Regions from separate parts of the Homo sapiens genome. Here region 2 is linked to region 1. The links come from fine-mapping of genetic effects on gene expression. Tissue or cell type: unexposed skin. Region 1 holds a variant in brackets; the other region holds the start of a gene. All regions are shown on one strand. Distances are between the middles of the regions.

Region 1 (5,374 bases):
TTACCCACCCAAATATTCCTTCCCTTGGGTGGGCAACCTGTTATGGACTGAATGCATCCCTCCAAAATTCATATGTTGAAGTCCTAACTCCAAGTGTGATAGTATTAGGAGGTGGGGCTTTGGGGAGGTGATTAGGTCATGGGGGAGAATCTTCAAGAATGGGATTAGTGCTCTCTTGTACAAGAGACCCCAGAGCCCTCTCCCATCTCCCATGTTCTGCCCACCATATGAGACCACAAGGAGAAGGTGTCAGTCTGCACCCCAGAAGAGGGCCCTGACCAGAACCCAGCAATGCTGGCACCCTGATCTTGGACTTCCAGTATCCAGAACTGTGAGAAATAAATTTCTGTTGTTTATAAGCTACTCACTCTCTGGTACTTTGTTATAACAGCCCAAACTGACTGAGACAGTACCCATGTATTCCAACGTGGGAGTGCTGTTCGTTTTATCCTTTAAGAGATGACATGTTGACATGTTTGGAAGAATGCAGGTTTTCCGGTAAGACAGTACTGGGCTCAATTACAGGACTTATCAGTTGTTGTTACTGATGCTGAATATCTGTGTTGCCTTGGAAAGTCACTTCGGGATTTTTGAGCCTCAGTTTTCTCATCTCTAAAATGGGCTAATAATATTGACCATCAAAGATTTGTTTTGAGGTACAACACCTAGAATAGCACCTGTATCTACTGGCTACATAGAAAACAGTTCTCATTTTTCTGATCTACAGAGAGCACTCTCTGAGGGCACAGGCAGCTTCAGTGGTGGAGATGGGTGTGGCTGTCCATTGTCTTTTCTCTGGCCCCCATGATGGTTTTCTTGGAAAGCATTTTAAGGCTAAGAAAGGCTCTGTCTGGTCTCAGGAATCAGGACTCAGGCACTGGATGTTTTTTGTGTGAATTTTCCATCAGTGTATTAACAATGGTAAGACAGAGGGAGATAATGCTCTTAAAAGCAGTATTAAATGAAAAATGTTGCATTTATTATTGCATTTTACTAGGGTGGCTCTATCTTCAATGATGCCCGTGACCTGCAAATCCAGAAATCCAGACAAATGGTCTAATAGTTTTCAAAGTTTTTACAGCTGAAAATTGAGAGGATGAAAGGTGCTGTGGTTAAGCCAAGGTGAGAGAACACTGTTGTTCAGCAGGGAGCCTGGCAGTGGAAGGAATTTCTGCCTTCTTCAAAGAGTGCTGCCATGCCTTAGTTCCCGAAGTATTAGGCTTTTGGACTGGAAGGCATTGTATTGACCTTTTTAGATGGATCTCTTCTCAGTGATGTTGCCTCGCTTTTCTCATGCTTCTCCCATGTGCTGGAGATCACTTACATCTTTGTGTATCTTATGGTAGGTGCTGTAATGCCCATTTTACAGATGAGAAAACTGAGGCTTAGAAATTGACTTGCTTTACGTCACATGGCTTTTAAAGATTGAATTAGGACTTGCACAGAAGTCTGACCACAATGCTGCCTGCTGCTTTTCCTCACCTTTCTCTGTGCCCACACCCCAACACCACTTACAACTATCTACTTTTTATTTTTATGTTTTTAAATTTATTTAATTTATTTTTTGAGACATAGTCTCATTCTGTTGCCCAAACTGGAGTCCGGTGGCATGGTCTCGGCTCACTGCACCCTCTGCTTCTCCAGCTCAAGTGATTCTCTGGCCTCAGCCTCCCAAGTAGCTGGGACTACAGGCACGCACCACCACACCTGGCTAATTTTTATATTTTTAGTAGAGACGATGTTTCATCATGTTGTCCAGGCAGGTCTTGAACTCCTGGTCTCAAGTGATCCACCTGCCTTGGCCTCCCAAAATGCTGGGATTACAGGTGTGAACCACTGTGCCCGGCCATCTACTTTTTAAATTTAGCAATTGAGGAGGGTGAAACCCGAGTGGGGAATAAATGACTTACCCCTAGTCACAGAGACCATTAGAGGCAGAGTCGGGTTGAGACCCAGAGCTCCTCCCTCCCTCGCCTGCTTTTTTCTGCTCTCCTGCCAGCCTTCCGTGAGCACGCCTCATTAAACCCACACAGAGCCACGGATGTTTCCTCAGCTCTGTCACAGATCCCTTCTTGCTGGCTGCCAGTTAATGCCGCTCCTCTTCAGAAAGCCTATG[G/A]TCTGAGTTTATATTTATCTTGTCCTCAGGCTTCAAAGTAATTGTTTCCTCCTTGTTTTCGTGTGGGTCACTCAGTGTGGGTAATATGTTCTTACTCAGAAAAAAACCAGCACTGCCTTCTTATTCCCAATCACAGTGCCAGCATGCTAAGTGTCGTGTCCCTGATCCAATCCCGGTGATCTCAGGAAATCTCCTCTGGAAGATGAGGGGGGTGTGGCTCGGTGGAGAAATATTCCCCTCAACTAGAGCCAGGAGTGCTTTTGCACCACGGACCTTGGGTGGATTGAAGCCATCCTCACTCTGCTGCCCTCTGGCTGGCTCATGGGTCTCCAGACCTGCATCCTCTCAACTCCAAGGCCAACAGAAAGAGAACGTTTTTTTCCTGTTGTTGTCCACAGAGGTTCCAGAACTAGGTTCTGAATGACTGGCTTGGCATATATTCCGGGAGCACTCCCATTGCTTGGACTCCATTAGGAAGGAAGTCTGTTTTGTTCACGGACATATCCTTCTTATTCAGTGCCATGCCTGGAATGAATGAATGAATGAATGAATGAATGGATGGATGGATGGGTTTGCCCAGGTCTGAGTCAGATGACCGTCTTGCTGCTAAGTGGTCAAGTCCCCAGCACATAGAGTGTGTATGTCACCAGAACAGAGACTATATGCAGATTAGGTTTCCAAAAAAAAGTAGATGTCTCCCATGGCTGTCCATGTGCTGGGTGTTTTCTGTTTGCCTCTCCAAATCTATTCTCCACCCATGGGAGACTCAACTTGTAAATTTCACCAGTGGCCTCCTTGCCTCTGAGTTCTGATTGGATGCAGACAATAGGAGGAACCAGCAGGAGATGGGTGGGTCAGAGTCAGGAGGAGAGGACTTGGTCCCCTCCCTGTTGGGCTGTTGTGGGCCACAGCTCCTCCAAGAGCCATCAGTTTTCCTGGTTTCTGACAACTGGTCTCTCCCCTGGCCTCCTTAGTTGGAGAGATGGTAACAGTTCTCTGTTATTGCCAATCCCAGGGGCTTCACCCTCCCTTGTTGATTTCCCTAAACCTTTCCTCACCTTTGTAAATAGTCTCTATACGGGATGTTGCCCACTTTCAATGTTTGCATGAGTGTATGGGATCAGACTCGTACAGCCTGTCAGGTTAAACGAGGATTAGATTTGTTCTGCTCAGTTTCTTTGGGCAGAAGGAGGACCCAATAATGGTGGTGGCTACTTGGACATAAGTTTCTCCCTAGAGAACTGTTAGCTCCTCCACCCTTCAGGCTCCCTCAGACGTGTCCCCTTGCACATGTTAGCCCTTCTGTTTAGATTGTTTATCTGTCTGCTCCAACAGGGAACACCTGCCCTGCCTTTCAGTTTCAGTTCAGAGGGACACCCTTCACAAAGCCTACTGCACTTACCCAGCCTTCCTGTCTGTACCCTGCAGCCTTCCGAGCTCACCTTTTCTCAGCGTGGACCCAGCCCTGGGCACCACCTTCCTCTAGACTGGAAACCCCTTGAGGGCAGGTTTTGTATCTAATTCCTCTCTGTGGCTTCAGTGCCCCATGCCTAGTACCTACTGGATGTATACACCTCTTGAGTAAATGTATGAATTTTTTTTGTTTGTTTGTTTGAGATGGAGTCTCACTCTGTCACGCAGGCTGGAGTGCAGTTGTACGATCTCAGCTCACACTGCAGCCTCTGCCTCCCAGGTTCAAATGATTCTCCTGCCTCAGCCTCCTGAGTAGCTGGGATTATGGGTGCCCGCCATCATGTCTGGCTAATTTTTAGTAGAGATGAGGTTTCACCATGTTGGCCAAGCTGGTCTCAAACTCCTGACCTCAGGTGATCCACCCGCCTCAGCCTCCCAAAGTGCTAGGATTACAGGTATGAGCCACTGTGCCCGACTGAATTTATGAATTATTAAGCTCTGTTAAGTTTGGAATTCCAAAGAGAAGATAAGTTTTTGAATTCCAAAGAGGAAGTCCAGTTTGGGATTTTGAGAGATGGTGTTTAGAGAAATACCGTCTTAGCAATGAATATTTATAGAACTTAATTTCATTTTTAGAAAAGGAAAATTATTTTTTGCTTACAAACATCAAAATAAAAACAACAACAACAAACGTGAGTGCCTCAAGACAAACATCTCATTCCCACACATGGAAGGTGTCTTCTGGTAGAACCTCTAGCACCAGGTCTGAGTCCTATTTCAGTGCCACCACTGTGGCCTGGGGTGAGTCATATGACCTCCCTGAACCTCTGGTTATTCTTTGGAGAAATGAAGGCATAGCTGGGAGGTGCCTACCAGATGGGCTCTCATGCACATGAGTAGTATGGACCAGTGTTTCTCAATATTTTGTTCATGATTATTGCCATGGTGAGTGTTTTTAGATCTTTTCTTCCTAATCCCATGAAATTTTCATGCCAGAGATATGCTGCATATGTACTGTGGCCTGTTGAAGGGCCGAAAATCATGGCAATAGCTAAGATAGCTTTTGCTCCCTAAGTAGCTTTTTTTTTTGTCCCGTTGAGAATGCACAGTTACGATGATTTATCTCTCTCTGATGGCCATCAAAAGAACTGTCCATACCATGTACAGCACCAGAGCCTGGGGCTGCTCTTGAGACATTCGTAGTCAGAGAACAGACAGAAATGGAATCCCATCTGAGCCTGTGGTCTGCAGAGCAGCCTGGGTCCCTGAGCACTGTCACTGCAGAGACATGAGTCACAAGGCTGAATGTCACTGCTGTTTGGTTCTGCAGCCGGGGGCTGGGCCCTGGAAATCCAGAGGTGGGTGACTTGGCTCCTGCAGTCAGAGAGCTCCCAGACTCATGGGGTGGTGATGGTGGTGACATTCTAAGCACCATGTTAGAGGAAATGCCAGGGCAAGAGACACCTCACTGTCCAGCCTGGTGGTGACACTCCTCTGGTGTCATTGCACTGGAGCTGACTGGAGTAGAGGTTCCTGAATCCTTATGCCTGCTACACTCAGGCTGACAAAGACATCAGGCTGAGGAGCAGACCTGGGAGGAAACGCAGGCTGCAGGAGTAGAAATGAAAGACAAGAGAGAAGTACCCTGGAGTGGAGGTTGAGGCAGTAGATGGTTCAGAGGGAGGCTGAGAGTCAGCCCAGGAGGCTGCCAGCCATAGTTTTCCACACCTGTGCTAGCTTTGATGGCCTTTAATTGCCCTTGCTTTGGTGAGCTGATGCAATCAGGCCAGAGAACACCTGAGTGACACGATAACTGCCAAGTGTCTCTAACACAGCTGACAGCAG
Region 2 (5,374 bases), 63 kb before region 1:
CATCTTTTATGGGAGGCATGCAAATAGCCCCTGCACCTTATCTTAAATTGTAATACTTGACAGTCTGAAGCTCCCATCAAAATAGAAGTCTTTTCATGTATCTGAGGATCCAAACTGTCATTCTGGGAATCTGAACTTTTGATTAATTGCACAATAATAAATTCTCACATCTTCTTTCCACATTCCTTGACTCGTCTTCTTTTTATGTTTATCTAGTGAGCCTTTTTATTTTAAATACTGTCAAAATGTTTTTATCATGTTTCTTAAGTTGCAAGGAGCATAAAGGAGCAGCAAGACTTCCTAAGTATGAAGACTTTCACAATGGTAAAACGAAACCAAACAAAAATCTCACCCACAAACATACATGGAATGCTTGTGTGCCAGGCATTGTGCTGAGAGCTTTACACTCTTCATTCGCTTATTCATCATTTATTCATGCTGCCAACACAGATTGAGAGCCTGTGATATGACAGACACACTTCCAGGATTCAAAACTAGGATGCTTAGTCCCTGCTCTTGTTTAGTAAGATAACAGTAAACAAGTAAACAGAATGTAAATGCGATCATTTTTGGCAGTGATAAATGTAATGAATGAACAAAACAGGAAGAGACTGAGGGAGAACAGCGACTTTGGAAAAGGTGCTCAGAGATAAAGGGCAAGATTGTTTCCTGGTTAGTTGGGATGGGAGTAGGACAGGAAGAATACACGTGAGTTTGGTGTGTTGGGCATGGCAGGGCTAACACATGGGCAGGAGGAGGCTTTGCAGTGCCCAGCTCCCATTTGGAGATATTCTGATCCAAGCAATTCCCTTTCCTTGGGCTTTTTCTCCTTTCCAGAGCCTGCTGGACTGGTTACTTACTCCAACTCACTGCTGAGCATTTATCTATTCACGGATGTACAGGGGTCCTACTGGGCACTGCCACGTTTCCATATGCTATTTCCTATAATTCCTCACAAAACCCATCAACCAGTGAACAGCCTTTTCCCCTGGGGTTCTTGTCATGAACTCTTCCCGTTTAATATTAAGTTCCCATGCTAGAGTCTGTTTCTGGACAAAGAATTCTGTTGCACTGAGAGTTTATTTTTGTACCGATCCCACACTGTTTTAATGATTTCAGTCTTACAGTTTAACTTCCTCTGGAAACTCCTCCCTTCTTGATTTGGAGACCTCTTTTGAGGTTCTCCCCTTTGATAGTCATTCTATAGGGTGGTGGTTCTCTGACCCTTCCCCTGCCCCAGCCCATACATTCCTACTCCCTTCCCTTCCTTCTTCCCTTCCCTGTCTCCTATGCTCTCCTTGGCCAACTTCTCCAGGCAAATCCAGAGCTGGTGTTCTTGCAGGTCTGATTCCTCTTTTCTTATACACTAGGGATAGATCCTCGGCCTTGTTCACAGGGTCTCCCCTCACCCCATGTCTCTCACCCCAGCTGACAGACATGAGGTGAGAGAGTGGGAAGGAAAGGAGGCCACAGATGCCATGGGGCAGCAGGAATGGAGGCTTCCCCGATGGCGGTGGGCATGGAAGAAGTGCAGGATGCTCCTGTCCTTTGTCAGTGTCTTACAAGATCTAGCCTTTGCCTGTGGCCTACTCTCATTAAGCTCAAGCCACCCTTCCCCTCCGCACCCGCTGTTCTGCTGTTTGGAGGGCTCTCTGGACATTTACATAGTTGCTCCCAGCTTGTCATTAGGGTCTCACCTCGAAGCATCACCTCCACAATAAGGCCTTCCACGACCAGCCGGTTTAGAGTGACTCCCCCAGTCACTATAGCGCAGCACTCTAATTTGTTACCACATACTATTTACCAATATCGGAAATTCTACTGTTAAAATTTGTCTTTTCATTGTCTTCCACCGGCTAGGACGGAGGTCTTAGGAGTGCAGAGACCTCATATCTTCAGGACAGAGATCACTACCCTTTGCCAGGGAAGCTCACGAGGGGTTACAGATTGGTTGATTGAATTGAAATTTGGACCAGAGAGGGAATGACTGGCTTGGGTGCAAGTCGGGAGCAAAGCAGGAATCAAAGATTCTGACTGCATTTCTTCAGTCCTTTGCCCACCCAGACAGGTGAAGGTGCTATTCAAAGATTGGGGGAGGAGAGGGCCGCGGCATCCACCATGAACCACGAACTAGAGGGAAGAGGGAAGAGGGAAGAGGGAAGAGGGAGTCACGAGCTTCGCTACCACAGAGCAGGTGCGTTCGCGGTGCGCCCGGCCTTGACCAACCCGACAACTTGGCTTTTACCTCTGAAGCCGAGGAGCAGGGGTAGGGGGTGAGGGAAATTCACAAAGCTGCAACCACAGAGCCAATGTTTGGTGGGCGACAACCCCCCAGTCCCTCCTCCCTTCCTCTTCTTCCCCCAACTGCCCGCCGTCACGCCCCATCCAGGGGAAGCCCCAACGCCCACGGGAGCTCCAGGAGCCGGGCTCTGCAGCCGCCTGGCGCACTGCCTGGTTGCAACGGGGGCGGCGGTAGCCCAGGCGATCCTGGGTCCCCAGACAATCAGCGGTGGGGGTCGGCGGGAAGAGGCGGGGCGCCGCCGCCCGGGCCTCCCGCCGCGACGGGGCGGGACAATGGGGCCCCACCCCGGGGAAGGAGGGAGGGAGGGACGCGGCGTGCTCTCGGCCCGCGGCGCGCTCGCTGCTGCTGCTGCTGACAGGCTGAGGCTGGAACGGGCGGGGAGGGGCGCGGGTGGGAGCGCGGAGGAGGGAGGAGGCGGCGGCGGCGGCGCGTGTGGCTGGCGGGCGGGAGGGCGGCTGGCACCGGGCTTGTAAATAAACTGCGATGCTGTCTTGGGCTCGCCGGCCTGGGTGCCGCCGCCGCCGCCGCCGCCCCGGAGCGCCGGTTCCAGGCTCCCGCCGCCGCGCGCCCTAGCGCCTCCGCGCCAGCCTCGCGCGCCCTCCCAGCTTCTCCGCAGCCCCCGGCCCGCGACCCTCGGGGTCCTGCGGCTGACCCGCGCGGGATGTGACCCCCTGACCCCCTGCCTGGCCTCCCCTGCCCCCCAGGGGGCCCGCCTTTGCCTGCTTTTGGGGGGGGGTGGGGAGGGGCGCGCGGATCATGGCATTGGAGTTCCCGGGCTTGCAGCCGCCGCCGCCGCCTCGTTCACGCACCCCGAGCGCCCCTTCTTCCCAGAGCAGCAGCGGAGAAGGCGAAGCGGCCGGCGGGGGCGAGGCAGATGGGGCTCAAGGCGCGCAGGGCGGCGGGGGCGGCTGGCGGCGGCGGCGACGGGGGCGGCGGAGGCGGCGGGGCGGCTAACCCAGCCGGAGGGGACGCGGCGGCGGCCGGCGACGAGGAGCGGAAAGTGGGGCTGGCGCCCGGCGACGTGGAGCAAGTCACCTTGGCGCTCGGGGCCGGAGCCGACAAAGACGGGACCCTGCTGCTGGAGGGCGGCGGCCGCGACGAGGGGCAGCGGAGGACCCCGCAGGGCATCGGGCTCCTGGCCAAGACCCCGCTGAGCCGCCCAGTCAAGAGAAACAACGCCAAGTACCGGCGCATCCAAACTTTGATCTACGACGCCCTGGAGAGACCGCGGGGCTGGGCGCTGCTTTACCACGCGTTGGTGTGAGTACCCGGCCGCTCGGGGCGCCCTCGGCGGCGGCGCGCTTGGGGACTTGGGGTCGGGGCTGGAGCTGAGAAGTCTCTGGGGCTTTAAGACCCATGGATGCTTTCCCGCTGAAGGGGAGACCAGCCCGTCCTCAGCACGCGTTTCCCTGGGTGTGTGTGTGTGTGTGTGTGTGTGTGTGTGTGTGTGTGTGTGTTGCCGCTCTCCGGGTGTTCCACACTAGGGGCTTAAAAAACGAAGCGTGGTTCCCCTGCTGATTTGGGCGGATGTGTGCGCGCGCGGGTGCACATTTATGACATCTTCTAGGGGTGTTGGTTTGGAAGCTTAAAATAATTATGTGGGTTTTTCCAATTAATGTGAGGGTTGAAGAGGATAAAGCGGGTCCTCCCGTGAGCTCTGTGTTTCTGTTTCGGGTGGATCCCTTCTGTTGGGATCGCCACTGAGTTTAGTTGGGGATGGGAGGGGTGCGCACCACCCATAGTGGGGAGCGTGTGTGTGTGTGTGTGTGTGTGTGTGTCGCTTGCTTGTGCCACCCTTCTGATCGCTGGGTACTGGTACAGAGAAGAACCTGGTGCTGCTCTGACTGGGAGCTGGGACTGGCCAAAATGCATGTTCTAGGATTCCTTTTAGGGAAGTGAATGGGAACGTGTGTGTCTAAGCCTAGACTGAGGGGCTGGGGCTTCACAGAGCCAGGAGGTGAGGGGGCCGGGGACTCTTTTGGCTGAAACATCTCCTTGATTTGGGATCCGATATTCCCTCAGCCTCAGTCGCTGCTGCTTCTCCTGCTTTGGCTGGCCTAGGGCACCGGGAATGTGAGGGGCTTGGCCTGGAGGTTTGCACCCAGGCACTGTTCTCCTAGAAAGAATCTCCTTGCTAGTCCGATGTAAATGCATGGCCAGAAGGAAGAAGGAACTCCCTCTGCACCTGCCACTGGGGATGGAAAATCCACCCGTATTTGGGAGGGGGGAGAGGATGGTGGGGGTGCTCCTCATTCAAGATTGGAAATCTGTGCTGTCAGCACCCATCTCGGAGCTGGCAGGGCACGTCCAGCCATCAAGCTCTGCCTTCTGGCTCTGGTTTAGTCATCCTGATGGCTGCTTCTAGGAAGCTGTACTGTACCAGGGTTTTGGCAGGGAATTGCCTATGACCTTGGCAACCCCCCCTCCCCCCTCTCTCCCCCACGCGTTTAGCAGTGGATTTTCCTCTCTATTCTCCTCCAATTCACCCATGACTGATGTGGTCGGAAGGGCTCAGGAGCCTTGGAGTTAGTTACACTACCTGCCAGTTTTTCTTGGTTAGAGACGTTTTTCTAGGTTCGGCCACCAGGTGGGGGCGTCCACACAGGACCTCAGACTTAGCAACAGGTTTCTTCAAGGAGGTTACCAAGCCCGGAGAGGGTGCCTTCCCGGAAACTAAGGAACCAGCAGGAAGGGTGGGGTGGGAGTGGGGCATTTTCCCAGAAACGTGGATGTTGGTGTCTGTATGAGTGTGCGTGTGTATGTGTGTGTGTGTGTGTCTATTTGCAGGTGTTGGTCGGGGTCTGGTTGGAGAGACGGCTTAACAATTGTTGCTCTTTCATTTGCTCTTTTTAGGTGGCCGAAAAAAAAGCATTAAAATACATTCCTCTCTCTGTCTCTAGCAATATGTTTAGTTAAATTGAAGTGAATACTGAAATATGTGATAGTTAAAAAAGGCACAAGAAGTTCGTTGAGTGCACACAGTCATACAATGATTCACGTGTCCTTTCACATGCACATCGCGTTCAGTACGTACTGACTGAAAAACCTGGGGGTCCTATGGAAGCATGTGGG

The links. PIP is the estimated chance that this variant, and not a neighbour inherited with it, causes the effect.
Region 2: KCNQ3 starts here. The variant in region 1 is the best candidate, but not a certain one, in a credible set for the expression of KCNQ3 in unexposed skin (GTEx, PIP 0.80).

What each region holds. Positions count from the first base shown.
Region 1 is chr8:132,414,978-132,420,351 of GRCh38, reverse strand. All of the region lies in intron 1 of KCNQ3 (potassium voltage-gated channel subfamily Q member 3), which reads left to right. Among named protein-coding and RNA genes, the nearest start is that of KCNQ3, 63 kb to the left of the region's middle. RefSeq lists an enhancer at 4,710-5,374. The variant G/A (reference allele first, on the strand shown) is at 2,117.
Region 2 is chr8:132,478,335-132,483,708 of GRCh38, reverse strand. It overlaps KCNQ3 (potassium voltage-gated channel subfamily Q member 3), which reads left to right and starts at 2,614. Exons shown (of 15, transcript NM_004519.4): 1 at 2,614-3,562. The coding sequence starts at 3,177.